Regions from separate parts of the Homo sapiens genome. Here region 2 is linked to region 1. Evidence: fine-mapped expression QTL. Tissue or cell type: cerebellar hemisphere. Region 1 holds a variant in brackets; the other region holds the start of a gene. All regions are shown on one strand. Distances are between the middles of the regions.

The links. PIP is the estimated chance that this variant, and not a neighbour inherited with it, causes the effect.
Region 2: it holds the start of FOXM1, and the variant in region 1 is fine-mapped to the expression of FOXM1 in cerebellar hemisphere (GTEx, PIP above 0.99).

Annotation. Positions count from the first base shown.
Region 1 is chr12:2,833,561-2,841,418 of GRCh38, forward strand. NRIP2 (nuclear receptor interacting protein 2) reads right to left here and starts at 1,475. Exons shown (of 6, transcript NM_031474.3): 1 at 1,082-1,475. The coding sequence starts at 1,423. It also overlaps a transcript of ITFG2 not described here. RefSeq lists enhancers at 612-1,156, 1,157-1,701, 1,702-2,245. The variant C/T (reference allele first, on the strand shown) is at 3,244.
Region 2 is chr12:2,873,242-2,881,099 of GRCh38, forward strand. FOXM1 (forkhead box M1) reads right to left here and starts at 3,933. Exons shown (of 9, transcript NM_021953.4): 1 at 3,679-3,933; 2 at 736-1,284. The coding sequence starts at 1,237. RHNO1 (RAD9-HUS1-RAD1 interacting nuclear orphan 1) reads left to right here and starts at 3,982. Exons shown (of 3, transcript NM_001252499.3): 1 at 3,982-4,041. RefSeq lists silencers at 3,689-3,758, 3,799-4,238 and an enhancer at 5,822-6,775.

The DNA of each region.
Region 1 (7,858 bases):
CAGACATGCTTCCAACCTGTCAGTACAGGCCTGGTTGAGTACCTCTTCTCAGACTAGGAGAGGGGACAGGGAACCGAGTGCTCCCAAGCCTTTCTACAAAGGATTTCCTCTCTTCCACGGGTCAGAGGCCAGGAATATTTCTCAGACTAAATGGAGTAATAGCTGGGGGAATAATAATAATAGCATTTAGATAGTGCCTGCTATTAGGCACTGTTCTAAGTGCTTTAAATATATTAGCTCTAACAACTCTCCCAACAATCCTATGATTGATTTGATTCTCATTTAACAGATGAAGAAACTGAGGCACAGAGACGTAAAGTCAATTGCACAAGTTAGTAAATGGCAGAGCCAGGATCTGATCCCAAGCGAAGTGGCTGCGCAGCCCCGCTTGTCAGCATTGCCTCTCAGAGGGGAATGCCTGAATCTGCAGTTTTCCGCCGCCCACTCACATCCTCACTGTTACTCCCCTGCCCCATTCCTCTGAGGCCAAAGCTGCTGCAGACATGGGATGGGAGGAGAGGAGCCTGGAAGGTCCATTCCACTCAGGAGTTGGGGGAGCAGCACTCAAGGCGGCCAGGGGCCCCCGGCAAGAGCCACACAAAACCCTGATGCCCTGGGAAGGATGGAGACCCCCGATGTTTTGATTCTGAGGAGAAAGGACAAGTGGATAGACAGACCTGGTCTGGGGAACCTGTGGTTCGGGGGAAGCAGGAAGTCACAACCCTAAACTGGCCAGTCCTCCAGGCCCTCCTGGTTGTAAGTGACCACTCTAGAGGGTTCCTGTGTTCCTGTAAGCCCCCACTTCTAAACAGCCTAGCTCCTCACCACCCTCAAGTTTGGGGCCATTAGAGGAAAAAGGGAAGCCAAGCAATGAGAGAATAGGAACCCTCAGAGCCACCAAACCATGGGAACATCCCCGGTGAAGAGCCTTGAGTTGGCAGGATGACCTCTCCCCATCTCAGCAAGGGAGCGGGACCTGAAAGCTGAGGGTCTGCACTTTCTGGTCCTGCCTCCTGCTCAGGATCTGGGAAGTGGAAGGAAAAGGCCAGGGGACGCTGGCAGGGGAGGGGTGATGCCTCACCAAGTCCTTGGAGGTGCCGAGCCTCTTGAGGCTGTCCAGCGGGAGCAGGTCGGCCGAGTCCTTGTGCAGGAACTGGGTGGCCTGTTTGAGCCGGCGCTGCTGGCTCAGGTGGGCTCGGTCTCGAAGCTGTGCCTCCTGCCCCCTCGTCCTGGCTTCTCCCTCATCTCTCCTGGCCTCCTGCTTGGTGCTCATGGCCCCTGCTGGAGGAGTGGGCCAGGGGCTGCTCGGTGGGGGCGTCACCGAGTCCTCTCTGCTTCTTCCTGCCTGTCTCTGTCCCGTGCTGCAGCTCTCTTTCCAACAGGAGGGTCTCCACGGGAGGGAAAGAGGAAAAATAAATAACATGCAGGAGCAGCCGCGTCAGTCTCCAATTTCCCGAGATTGCTGTAGAGGGAGTGAGACTCCGGCTGGAAAAACCCAGTCCTAGAAGAGAGGGAGGGTTGGCAGGGCCCACAGCTGGCTGACTTGGCCGCATCCCCAACGCTGGGGTCCTGGTCAGAGCGGGCGGTGGATGGGGCGTATGTGTGTGTGTGTGTGTGTGTGTGTGTGTGTGAGAGAGAGAGAGAGAAGGAGAGTGAGAGACAGTGCTGTAAACTGTCAGGGTGCCCGTGCCAGGTGGTTTGCGAGGAAGCGCTTGTCACTGTGTGGGGGCAGCAGCCTTAGTGCACCTCCCAGCGTGTGTGGCCCCCGCCCTCCTCTGCATCCCTCCCAGGCTTCCCAGGACTGCCCAGCTGTTTTCTCCTGGCATTATCTGCAGCCCAGGGCTGGCGCGCAGGCCAGTAACTGGGTTCAGATCAAAGAGGGGCAGCATGAGAGCGTCCTTCCCTCCTCTCATCCCCCTAGCCTTACCTTGTTAGGTCTCTTGCCTCCCGCCTAGCAGATGTCAGAGTCTTTAACTAATTGACTCTGGATTCTGGGTTCCAGGGAATGACAGGAACAACTCTGAATCTTCCCACGAGTAGAAATTGTCCCTGGCATCTCAGTCTCCTTTATATGACTCTCCTCAAGTCCTGGCTCTTTAAAAAATGTTGCATTTCAAATATACAGAAGTTATAAAGAATAAGATAACCAGTACTCTTCACTCATCACCAGTTTAAAAAATAAGCTGTTGAAGCTCCCTGTGCACTTCCACTTCCGCCTGCTGAAATTGGTGTTTATCAGGCCCAGACTTCTTTATATTCTTTATGCAAATACTTACATATGCATTCTAAGCAATATGTCGTTGGTTTTGTCCTACTCACTGTATTTATTCTTCTGCAATCTGCTCTTTTTTGCTGAATAGTTTTTGTTAGTGAGATTCATCCATACGGTATGCCCAGCTCTAGTTAATTGACTTCACCTGCTGTGTAACATAGTATTCCATTAGATGCATGCATGACATTGAGGAAATGTAGGTTATTTTTCATTTTTAGGTCTAACAAACAATGCTGCTATGAATATTTTTGCACACATCTCCTGGGGCACCTATGTAGGCATTTCTCTAGAGTATACACCTACACCTAGGAGTGGAATTGCTGGGGCATCCCATATACAGCTTTGCCTTTTTGGCATATTGCCAGAGTGTTTTTACCAGTGCACACTGAGACAGCTGCACACAGGGGCTCCTGAGGTTCCACATCCTCTCCAGGACTTGGTATCAGACTTTTTCTAGCCCTGGCTTATCAGCAGATTTTTCTCTCCAGCCTTTCCTCTTCACCATCAGGGAAACGCATTGGCCAAGCACCTGTTTACCTGTGTTGGATGCTCACAGGGTGATTACCCCACCTGAGCCCTGCTCCCTAAGGGTGCAGTCTGACTCAGACAGCTCCAAGGCACATGTACTTTCAGACAAACCAGATGTCTGCTGAGCTTCTAGGAACCAAGCCTCTTTGAGACACTTTCACAACCACTGCAATTATATGAAGAAATACTGTATTCTAATCCCCATTTAGAGGGAAAGAAAGTGTTATGGGTTGAATTGTTTCCTTCACCCCCCAAATGTACCCCTAACCCCTAGTACCTCAGAAGGCGACCTCATTTGGAGATAGGGCCTTTACAGATATGGTGAAGTTAAGATGAGGTCATTAGGATGAGCCTACTCCCATATGACTGCGCTCTTATTAAAAGGAGGAAGTGGGACGCAGAGAGAAACGCACATGGGGAGAACGCCACGTGAAGGCTGAGGT[C/T]GGGATAATGCATCTGCAAGCCAAGGAACACCTAAGAGGACCAGCAAACCACCAGAAGCCAGGGGAGAGGCGTGGAACAGACCCTGCCTTACAGCTGTCAGAAGGAACCAACCCTGCCAACACCTTCCTGTTGTACTTTCAGCTTCCAGAACTGTAAGATGACAAATTTCTATTGTTTTAGCCACTCAAGCTTGTGATACATACTTTGTTATGGCATCCCCAGGAAACTAGTACATTAAGTCTTAGGACCCAGCACAGTGGTTCACGTCTGTAATCCCAGCACTTTGGGAGGCTGAGGCGGGTGGATCACCTGAGATCAGGAGTTCGAGACCAGCCTGGCCAACATGGTGAAACGCTGTCTCCACTAAAAATGCAAAAAATTAGCTGGGCATGGCCGGGCGCGGTGGCTCACGCCTGTAATCCCAGCACTTTGGGAGGCCGAGGCAGGCGGATCACGAGGTCAGGAGACCGAGACCATCCTGGCTAACACAGTGAAACCCCGTCTCTACTAAAAATACAAAAAAATTAGCCGGGCGCGGTGGCAGGCGCCTGTAGTCCCAGCTACTCAGGAGGCTGAGGCAGGAGAATGGCGTGAACCCGGGAGGTGGAGCTTGCAGTGAGCCGAGATCACGCCACTGCACTCCAGCCTAGGCGACAGAGAGAGACTCCGTCTCAAAAAAAAAATTAGCTGGGCATGGTGGCACACGCCTGTAATCCCAACTACTTGGGAGGCTGAGGCAGGAGAATTGCTTGAAGCCGGGAGGAGGAGGTTGCAGTGAGACAAGATTGTGCCATTGCACTCCAGCCTGGGCAACAAGAGTGAAACTCCGTCTCAAAAAAAAAACCCAAAAAACAAAAACAAAACAAAATTAAAAATTAGCCAGGTGTGGTGGCATGTACCTATAGTCTCAACTACTCAGGAGGCTGAGGTGGGAGGATCACTTGAGTCCAGAAATTCGAGGCTGCAGTGAGCTATGATGGCACCACTGAACTCCAACCTGGGTGACAGAGCGAGACACTGTCTCTAAAAGAAAAAAATTCTTAGAAAATATGCCCAAGATTCAGTTATGATATAGCAGAGCAGGTGGTCCAGTCCTTGTGTTCTCTCTCCCAAGGTCTGTTCAATTTACGCTGTGCCTAAAGGAGAATACTGATAGAGATGATAAACACGGAAAGAAAACCAAACTGCAATAGGATGCCATTTCTCAAGATTTGCCCCACCCAGAGCCGAGCTTCATTTAGACTTAGCTTTAGTGGAACTTTCTAGCTCCCTCCCATGTCTTGACATCCATTACCACCATATGTTTGCTTGGGATAGAGGTCAAAGAGGATCCTCTGGCATGTTTTGCTGGGTTCCTGTAGTCATTTCAACAGGATTAACTATAATCTATAATTGATAGATTATTGAGTGACACACAGCGTGATGCTGGGCAGGCCCCAAGCTGAAAAGCATCTCCTCCAACTTACTTTATTCTTAGCAATTCATTCCTTTGGTTTGAAAATTCTTCAGCATCTTCAAGAGTCCTTTACTAATGCATCCTTTGGGGGAGTTGTGCTAAATTATCAACTCACAAGGATGAGATGGCTGGCTCTAGGGAGCCAGCCTGCCAACATGGATGGGCTGTCCCAGGCTCTCAAGTGAGCTCAGGTCTGTACACTGCACTCCAGGGAAGAGTAAATGTGCCTGGGGCATAGAATGGAGACTTTGGAGTTTGGAGTTTGGAGTGGGTTTGGGGACATCAGCTTCTCTCTTCCAGTTAGTCTGATAAGTCCTTTGTTGCCTGGCCCTGGAAACCACTTGTGCTCCGAAAATGCCATTCTCTGGAATGTAGCTGTGGAGTAGGGAGAGAGTTGGCCCCTGTGTTCTGTAACCCAAGCAAGTACTGTCTCACTGCCATCTTGGGGCAGACTCCGCAGTAAGGAGAATCTCTCTTGCCTTTTTGTGTTTCTTGGTTTCTTCCTTTGTAAATACAAGGCATAGTCTCTGCCCTTCCCCCAGATTGCCAGAAGAGTGGGATATATTGTTCTAGCAATATAAAGCTCTGAGGCCTTTCTGCAGGACTGTAGACACCACTTTGCTGTGATAGTGAAGAATGTGGGGAGTGTTGTGAGGCTAGGCGAGCGGCCCGGCCTTGCCCATGACAGCTCAGTCTCCTCCCCTCATAACTTTTTTACCTAACAGAGAATTAAAAAAAAAAAACAATTTAGCTGGGCACAGTGGCTCATGCCTGTAATCCCAGCACTTTGGGAGGCTGAGGCAGGTGGATCACTTGAGGTCAGGAGTTCGAGACCAGCCTAACCAATGTAGTGAAACGCTGTCTCTACTAAAAATACAAAAATTAGGCAGGCATAGTGGCGCATGCCTGTAATCCGAGCTACTCAGATGCTGAAGTGGGGGAATCACTTGAACCTGAAAGGCAGAGGTTACAGTGAGCCGAGATCATGCCACTGCACTCCAGCCTGGGTGACAGGGTGAAACTCCGGCTCAAAAAAAAACCAAATAATTAATCAACAAGGAATAACTCCATTGGTCTCTAATAATGAGACAGAGGGGGAAGAAACTTCGTCCAACTATTCAGGAAGATTAAGCAATTCTGAACCGTTAGGAGTAGAAGAAGTGAGCGTATTCTCGTCCAAAACACTTGGAAAATGTCTGTTATTCTCTGAAGTGAATGGATCTAAATTCAGAAATGCTGAGAGAAAAAATGAAAGTGATAAATATGGCTCCTTCGCTGCATTGGTTCTTCTATGAATGAAGTTTTTTTTCATTCAGAAAAAAGTAGTTATTGAGCGCCTACTATGTACTGGACGCTGAGCTAGGCCCTGGGTGTACAGTGGAGAGCCAGATGAGGTCCCTGCCTTCATGGAGTTCACATTCTAATGGAACAGGTAGATAATGAACAACTAAATTTATAACCTCAGGTGGTGGTAAGTGCTGAAGAAAATACACCATGGAATAGTATGGAGCCATAAAAAATAACAAAATCATGTCCTCTGCAGCAACATGGATGCAGTTGGAGGACATTATCCTAAGCAAATTAACACAGAAACAGGAAACCAAATATTGCGTGTTTTCACTTATAAGCGGGAGCTAAACAATGAGTACAAATGGACACGAAGATGGGAACAACAGACACTGGAGACTCCAAAAGCGAGGAAGGAAAGAGGAGCTAGGGCTGAAGAACTTCCTGTTGGGTACTGTGGTCACTCTCTGAGTGACAGGATCAAGAGAAGCCCAGACCTGAGCACCATGCACTGTGCCCTTCTAACAAACCCGCACATGTGCCCCCTGAATCTAACCAAAAAAAAAAAAAAAGGGCAAGATCTACCAAGTTCATGAGTAGGAAGGTTCAATATAAAGATGGCCGGGCGCAGTGGCTCACGCCTATAATTCCAGCACTTTGGGAGGCCGAGGTGGGTGGATCACCTGAAGCCAGCAGTTCAAGACCAGCCTGGCCAACATGGTGAAACCCCGTCTCTACTAAAAATACAAAAAAAAATTAGCTGGGTGTGGTGGCTCATGCCTGTAGTCCCAGCTACTCGGGAGATTGAGGCATGAGAAACGCTTGAAACCGGGAGGTGGATCAAGTTGAAGTGAGCCGAGATCACGTCACTGCACCCCAGCCTGGGAGACAGAGCGAGACTCTGTCTCAAAAAAAAAAAAAAGGATTTAATTTCTTCCCCAATTTGTCCATAAACTCAATATAATTCTAAATATCATGCCTGTAATCCCAGCACTTTGGGAGGCCGAGGCAGGCAGATCACGAGGTCAGGAGATTGAGACCATCCTGGCTAACACGGTGAAACCCCATCTCTACTAAAAATACAAAAACTTAGCCGGGCGAGGTGGCGGGCGCCTGTAGTCCCAGCTACTCGGGAGGCTGAGGCAGGAGAATGGCGTGAACCCGGGAGGCGGAGCTTTCAGTGAGCTGAGATCACGCCACTGCCCTCCAGTCTGGGTGACAGAGCAAGACTCCGTCTCAAAATAAATAAATAAAATTCTAAATAAAATCCAAATACAATTTTTTTTTTTTGTAGAAAAAAGAGAAAAAAGCAGGGTAAGAAGAGAAAGTGGTGGAGCTGAGCTGGGCAGAGTGGCTCTTTTAGAAGCGATGACATTTACACATAGGTCACTATGGAGAGGGCCATGCAGACACCTGGAGGAGTGCCACAGACACAGGGAAGAGTGCAGGTAAGACAGGGTAGTCTGGGATTGTCCTTCTTATGTCCCCAAACCCGCCTGGGGCAAGGGGGTGGACTGGCCTTTCTCCATCCCCTCTGTCAGGCCCGTCTCCTCCTATGGCTAGTCACTCACATCTGCTAACAACAGACTGGCTGCAGTACAGAACGTCATCTCTTGCTATGGAGAGAATAGGGTTAACTTGTCTATACCACGAGCAAGCCCTTGTCCTGGATCCCGCTGCTCAGTCACCCTGGCATAGTGCCCATCCCACTGAATCTGTTAGGCTGCCAGACCCTGGGTTCCCTCTGCAGAACGGAGATCACGGAGTACCACTGAGTGCGTTCTCAGACTCGCCAGAGGGCTCTGGTGTTTTTGTATTTCTAGCAATGATGAAGGGGCAGAGAAGGGCTTAAAAAGGAAGGCTCCCTTGGC
Region 2 (7,858 bases), 40 kb after region 1:
TACCAAAATTAGCCAGGTGTGGTGGCGGGTGCCTGTAATCCCAGCTACTCAGAAGGCTGAGGCAGGAGAATCACTTGAACCCAGAAGGTGGAGATTGCAGTGAGCTGAGATTGCACCACTGCACTACAGCTTGGGCAACAGAGCAAGACTCCATCTCAAAAAAAAAAAAAAAAAAAAGAAGGAAAATGAAGTCAGGCGCTGTCGTTCATGCCTATAATCCCAGCACCTTGGGAGGCCCATATGGTTGGATCCCTTGAGCTCAGGAGTCCGAGACCAGCCTGGGCAACATAGTGAGACCCCTTCTTCATTTATTTATTTTTGAGACCCCTTCTTTTTTCATTTTTATTTTTTTTTTTGAGACAGAGTCTCCCTCTGTGGCCAGGCTGGAGTGCAGTGGCATAATCTCAGCTCACTGCAACCTCCACCTCCCAGGTTCAGCGATTCTCCTGCCTCAGCCTCCAGAGTAGCTGGGACTACAGACGTGTGCCACCACGCTCGGCTAGTTTTTTTATATTTTTAGTAGAGACGGGTTTCACCATGTTGGCCAGGCTAGTCCAAACTGCTGACCTCAAGTGATCCGCCCGCCTCAGCCTCCCAAAGTGCTGGGATTACAGGGATGAGCCACTGTGCTCGGCCAGAAGCCTGACTGTTGTAAGCATCAAGACTGACTACACACCTTGCCACTACAGAGGAAAGGCTGGGCTCCCTCACCCCTTTCCCTGGAAGACCACATACCACAGGTCTCCCGTTTCTGCTCGCAAAGGGCTCCAGGTGGTCTAGGAAGATTCACATCCCTAGCTGCAGGTTTTGGTCCCAAGGTCTCCAGGGTCACTTCTGTCCTTTTGGCATCATAGCTGGTTTGGGTTTGAGGCCGGAGTCCTGGAGGCTGAGTTGGGGCTCCCCCACAGCTGATGAGGATGAATTTGTTGGGCCCACTACTGCCACTCTCTTTTCCCTTGGCAGTCAGTGCTGTGATGATGCTGTGAATATTAGCATTGTTGGGGATGGCCACTACTTGCGTGTTGGGCATGGTGGGGTGGTTAATAATCTTGATCCCAGCTGGAAACTTGCAAGAGTTGGACTCTGCCACTTCCTTGGAGGCCTCTGCTTGATTAGACTCCTGTTGGGCAGGGGATCTCTTAGGTTCCTCCTCTGATGTTTCACTTGGGGCATTTTGAACAGGAAGGGGCAGCCTCCGTCTTTTGAGAATCAGTGGCCGACGGGGGCTAGTTTTCATTATGAATCTGCGTTTTCACTCTCCATTGAGAATCACAAGTGTGGACCCTGGAAAATGCAAATAGTGGCAAGATGTTAGAGATTGTTTAGGCTGAGAAGAGGTCCTTTTAGAGAAAGGTGCTCCTCTTTATATGACCAGGAACATGAGCCTAAAGGCCCAGGTAAACATTCCATGGACTTTTGTAAAGACCTCAGATAATAAGGAGATAAGCTTTACTGACAAAAGAAGGCTAAAATTACAGCAGACAGAAGCAATTCAAAGGGCAAAAATGGGACTGGGTTGGAGATAAGACAAAGATCTCCTTGAAGCTTCAGAATATTTGGCTACAGAAATGGATGGGATAGCTACAAATATGTGGAAATCTCTATAATTGCCTACTATAATATAAATAGATCACTTGCAATGACTGTATGGACAGAAATGGAAGATGCTAGAATAGGAAAGCATATGGTAATTAGGAGTCCTGATGAAACTCTGATCCCATAATCCATTCAAGACAAAGGATTTTAATTTTTTTTTTTTTTTTTTTTTTGAGACAGAGTCTCACTTTGTCACCCAGGCTGGAGTGCAGTGGCACGATCTCAGTTCACTGCAACCTCTGCCTCCTGGGTTTAAGCGAGTCCCACGTCTCAGCCTCCTGAGTAGCTGGGATTACAGGTGCCCACCACCACGCCCGGCTAGTTTTTGTATTTTTAGTAGAGACAGGGTTTCACCATGTTGCTCAGGCTGGTCTCAAACTCCTGACCTCAGGTCATCTGCCCGCCTCGGCCTCCCAAAGTGCTGGGATTACAGGCGTGAGCCACCGCGTCTGGCCAAGCCTTTTGATTTTTATATTACTTTGTAAATAGGACCAGTGCACACAGAATCAGGGAAGAAAGGCAGATTGTACTATTGCCACACTACTGGAAAAATCATCTCCCAGTTTACAAAACCTCACATAAAATGGAAACCTCTACTGAAGGCCCATGTAAAGTTGTGCAGCTTGTGCACTGAACAACTCTAGAGGGTGACATTTATTTCACAGGCTATTATACTTGCTCTAATTTAAAAAGCATGTTTTCTTTTACAATTTGTATTGTATTTATACAGTGGCATTTTAGTACTTGCATGTGGTTATATATATTTTAACTAAGCATGCCACTTTATTAATTTCTTTTCCAGAAATAAGACTATAACCCCTGTCTTCTTAGTACCACAATGAGCTATCATCATTACACTAAGGTGGTTCTGAAATGCTAACAGTGTAGTCTTTTTTTTTTAAGTCTTTTGTTGATTTTTTTTAATTTTTTTTTTTTTTTTGAGACGGAGCTTCGCTCTTGTCACCCAGGCTGGAGTGCAATGGCGCAATCTCAGCTCACTGCAACCTCGGCCTCCCGGGTTCAAGCGATTCTCCTGCCTCAGCCTCCCGAGTAGCTGCAATTACAGGCATGCACCACCATGCCCAGCTAATTTTTTTTTTTTTTTTTTAGTAGAAACAGGGTTTCACCATGTTTGCCAGGCTGGTCTTGAACTCCTCAGGTGATCCACCCGCCTCGGCCTCCCAAAGTGCTGGGATTACAGGCGTGAGCCACTGCGCCCGGCCTTTTGTTGATTTTAATAGATACATGGAATATTCTACCATTAAGCAAAATTGTGTAATTCTATTTCACGGAACTTTGGAAGACAGAGGAATTGGCTGTCTCTTTTTTAGGACACTTATTCTCTCCCTGAAAAGCAACTGCACTTTTTTGACATTTGTCATCTGCATAGAGTTCACAGGCCCTCCACACCTCTACCTTCAAATCTCAGTTTTACTTTCACCTCCGATCTTTCCAGGCTTCCCTCTCTCCCCGCATCAATCAGTAGATATTATTCCTCTTTTTCCACAGGATATCTAAGTCTTAATTTTCTCTTCTACTTCCTGACCAGCCCGTTATTATTATTGCCAACACTTTCTTGCCCGGGAAACTTCCAGAGTGGCTCCTCCGACCCATCCCCATCCTGAGCGGGGAAATCTTGCTACATTCTCAAGAACCAGGAAAAGGGCCCTGCAAAAGGGTAAGTAAGATGGAGGCGGTGTTGCCTAGTGGTGAGACAGCCTGGGAGCAGGGGAGTGTGTATGCAGGTTGGTCTTTGACTCAATGTAGTACAATCTCAGTCTTCATCTCAGCCACAGTCGGCCTAAGAAGGTAGGCCACCCCAGCCCTCCCGAGGCCGCGGGCAGGGTGCGGAGGTCAGACTTCCAGGGAAGGCCAAGGGGCGCTTTAAGCAGTGAGAAGGCCACGGCCAGGAGGTGGACGCAGAAAAAACTTGCACCCTGGCTCAGATTCTTCCCGTGTGACCCAAATCTCCACTCGTGGCCCGTGCCCTGCTGCTAGACGCCCTGACCTCCGCGCCCGGAGGCCTTGCTCCCCGCCTGTGCCCAGGCCAGGCCTGGGACTCCATTGCTGCATCCCGCTCACCTCCAGACTGCAGTCGCCGCCGCCGTTAGGCCGTAGCTCCGAAGGCGGGCTCCGGGCTCCTCCAACCTGGGGGCCGAGCCAGGGCCCCGGACGGGGGCTCGCGCCGGACCGGCCGGGTCCCCGGCGGTGCGGGCGGGGTGGGAACCCCGGGGGATCCCGGGAGGGGAGGGGGTCCCGGGCCGGGGCCGGGGGTGGGGTCTGGCACCGGAGCTTTCAGTTTGTTCCGCTGTTTGAAATTGGCGCCGGCGGAGCGTTAAGGTCACGTGACGGAACGTCGCCAATCGGCGCCGGCCTTGTCTCGGCATTCCGGGCTCGAAGGCTGTGCGGTCTGCCAGGAGCTGCGGCCCCGTCCGGCCCGGGCTGGTAAGGCGGACCGCAGGCCGGCTTGTGGGGGAAGAAGTGGCCGTGGGGCCGGGGAGGGGCCGGAGGGGTCCCCGCCGCGTGGGTGGGCGAGCCGAGGGAGAGTTTGGGGACGCGCGGAAGCGGCGTGACAGGCCCGGGTCCCTGGGCCCGCTTTTCCTGCCGCGCTGGTCACGCCAGGCGACACGCCCCCGCTTCCCCTCAGGCTCCTCTGCTCCCCTTTTCAAAGCTCGGCTTTAGTTGATTTCCTCACTGGGGGAAATCGTACCCCATTTTCCCACAGTGAACGATCGTCTGCTCCCCCCGATTAGACTAAGTTCCTTTGAGGGCTGCGTATTATCTCCGCTTTCTTCCATCTTGAAAAAAAATGTCGGCACCATGAACCCTACCTCAGCGCGAAACCTGTCTTTTGCCCCTCCCGAAGCCAAGCCTTCGGATATAATAGACCGTAGTGCTTTATTTATTGACTTAGTCAACCAGTCTAGTTGAGCAACTGCTGTGCGCCAGGCACCGCTAGGCCCTGAAGATACAATGGCAGACAAGGTTCTTTCCTTCCCCTGGGCTCACAGCCCAATCCTGGAAGAGGGGCACAGACATTTTAATCAAATAAACAAATGTGGGCTGGGCATAGTGGCTCACGCCTGTAATCCCAGCACTTTAGGAGGCCGAGGCGGGTGGATCACTTGAGGTCACGAGTTCGAGACCAGCCTGGCAACATAGCGAAACCGCTTCTCTACTAAAAATTAGCCGGGCGTGGTGGTGCGTGCCTGTAGTCCCAGCTACTCTGGAGGCTGAGGTGGAAGGATCACCTGAGGCCGAGAGGTGGAGGCTATGGTAAGCCATGATCACACCACTGCACTCCAGCCTGGGCGACAGAGGGAGACACCGTCTCCAAAACAAACAAATGTTGAATTATTGCTGTAAATTGAAACATTAGAGGTTAATGATACTTTGAGTATTTACAATAACGAGATCTTGAGAGGTAGGACAGGAAAGGCTTTTGTAATGAGAGCTTGGTGTGAGATCTGATGCCTTTTACAAAGAAAGGAGGGAACTCCTCTAAGCAGAGGGAATCAGGCGTGCAAAGGCTGGATGGCAGGAGGAAGCACAGTGAGTACAAAGGCTGAGAAATATCTGAGGGGTTTGAGCTAATCGACCTGAATGGAGTGTGGTGTGAGTTGAAGCTGGAGCCGGAGGAAGCAGAGCCTTAGCCATACCGAGAAGTTTTGTGCTTATCCAAGAATTAAAGGAAACCAGTCATAAGCTTTAAGCAGAAGTGAATCCAGGTCAGATTTGCATTTTAAAAGGTCCCTCTATAGCGGGGATTGCTAGAGTGGATTAGGGCAGAACAGTTGGATGTTGCAATACTCCAGGCAAGAACTGCTGGAGCTTGAAAAAGGGTGGCAGGGAGAGAGAGAGAGGAAGAGAAAGAAGGAGACAGAGAGAGTAAAAAAGGGGCATTAAGAAAACATGTTTAAGAGGTAAAGTTGACAGGGCTTGATGGTGGGTTGGATGGGAGGTAGAAGTGTCAAGATTTTCAGCTGCATAACTGAAGGAATAATGACACTATTCCCTGACCAAGGGCCCTGGAAGATAATCACTTTGGCCAAGGGACGGGCGGGGGGTTGTCAGGGGAATGATCGTGAATTCAGTTTTTGTTTTTTTACTACAAAGCAATGCTCAGAATGAGTTTTTTTTTTAATTATATATTTATTTTTATTTATCTTTTTATTTTTTAGAGACAGGGTCTTGCTCTGTCCCCCAGGCTGAAGTCCAGTGGCATGACCTTGGCTCACTACAACCTCAACCTCCTGGGCTCAGGTGATCCTCCCACCTCAGCCTCCTGAATGGCTGGGACCCCCTACAGGCACATGCCACTACACCCATCTAATTTTTGTATCTTTTGTAGAGACAGGGTCTCACTCTGTTGCCCAGATTGATCTTGAACTATTCGGTTCAAGTGATCCTCCCACCTTCACCTTTCACAGTGTTGGCATTACAGGCATGAGCCACTGTGCGCGGCCAAGTTCAGTTTTAAACTTGTTGAATTTTTTTTTCTTTTCTTTTTTTGAAACAAGGTTCTGGCTCTGTCACTCAGGCTGGAGTTCAGTGGCACGATCTCGGCTCACTGCAGCCTCCACCTCCTGGGCTCAAGTGATCTGCCCACCTCAGCCTCCTGAGTAGCTGGGACTACAGGTGCACGCAGCCGTGCCCACCTGATTTTTTGTATTTTTTGTAGAATTTGGGTTTCACTGTGTTGCCCAGGCTGGTCTCAAACTCATGAGCTCAAGCGATCTGCCCACCCCGGCCTCTGAAAGTGCTGGGATTACAGGCGTGAGCCACTGCGCTCAGCCTTACACATGTTGAATTTGAGGTGCGTTTGAAATATCTAGTTGCTGTTCAGGTAGGTAATGGGATATTTGGGTCCCAAACTTAAGGAATTCTAAAATATATAAATATTGAAGTCATCTACTTCTAGGTGGATACTGAAATACAGGCAGATGAGTTTGCCTAAGAAAAGTATATAGAGTGAGAACAGCTCCAAAGCACAACCAGAGGGGAAGGACTTAGACAGCAGAATGAACTGACCTCTAATTAGAGCAGAAAGAAGATAGATGTTGATACGCATAGGTTTGTATATTTGCTTTCTGGAAAATGAGAGTATTTCCTTTGATGTCTTCTGTATTCTTTGTCAAGTAGGAAGTAAAGTCATTTGTTAAGAGAAAAGGGGTGTTCTGAAGTTCTAAGAAAGTGGGCAGGGTGTGGTGATTCACATGTAATCCTAGCACTTCAGGAGGCTGAGGGAGGAGAATCACTTGAGCCCAGGAGTTCAAGCAAGACCTCATCTCTACAAAAAATAAAATAAGAAACTAACCAGGTGTGGTGGTGCTTGTCTGTATTCCCAGCTATTCGGGAGGCTGAGGCAAGAGGATCTCTCGAGCCCAAGAGTTTGAGGCTGCAGTGAGCTATGATCGTGTCACTGTACTCCAGCCTGGGCAACAGAACAGGACCCCATCTCTAAAAATAATTTTAAAAATTAAAATAAAAATGTTCAGGCTGGGCGTGGTGGCTCACGCCTGTAATCCCAGCACTTTGGGAGGCCGAGGTGGGCAGATCACCTGAGGTCAGGAGTTCAAGACCAGTCTGGCCAACGTGGTGAAACCCCATCTCTACTAAAAAATACTATAATTAGCTGGGCGTGGTGAGGGCGCCTGTAATCCCAGCTACTTGGGAGAGTGAGGCAGGAGAATCGCTTGGACCTAGGAGGAGGTTGCAGTGAGCCGAGATCACGCTACTGCACTCCAGCCTGGGCAACAGAGTGAGACTTTGTCTCAAAACAAACAAACAAAATTTCCACTTTATTTATTTATTTTGAGATAGGGTCTGTCTGTCACCTAGGCTAGAGTGCAGTGGCACGATCATAGCTCACCATATCTTCAAATTCCCAGGCTCAAGTGATCCTCCCACCTCAGCCTCCCAAGTAGCTGGGACTACAGGTACATGCCAACATGCCAAGCTAATTATTCTTTTAAATTTGTAGTAGAGACGAGGTCTCTCTATGTTGCCCAGGCTGGTCTTGAACTCCTGGCCTCAAGCAGTCCTCCCATCTCAGCCTCCTAAAGTTCTGGGATTACAGGCGTGAGCTACTGCACCTAGCTTGGAGAAGTTTTAAGATAATCTTTGTGGAGAATGAGTTGATCAAGGAAACAGGATTGCTGAGCAACGTACCCATTTGAAGCTGATGACTTTCAGCAAGTCATGAATTTCAAAACTATAGCCATTGCTACCACTGTTATCTTTTCACTGGATTTCTGTGGTA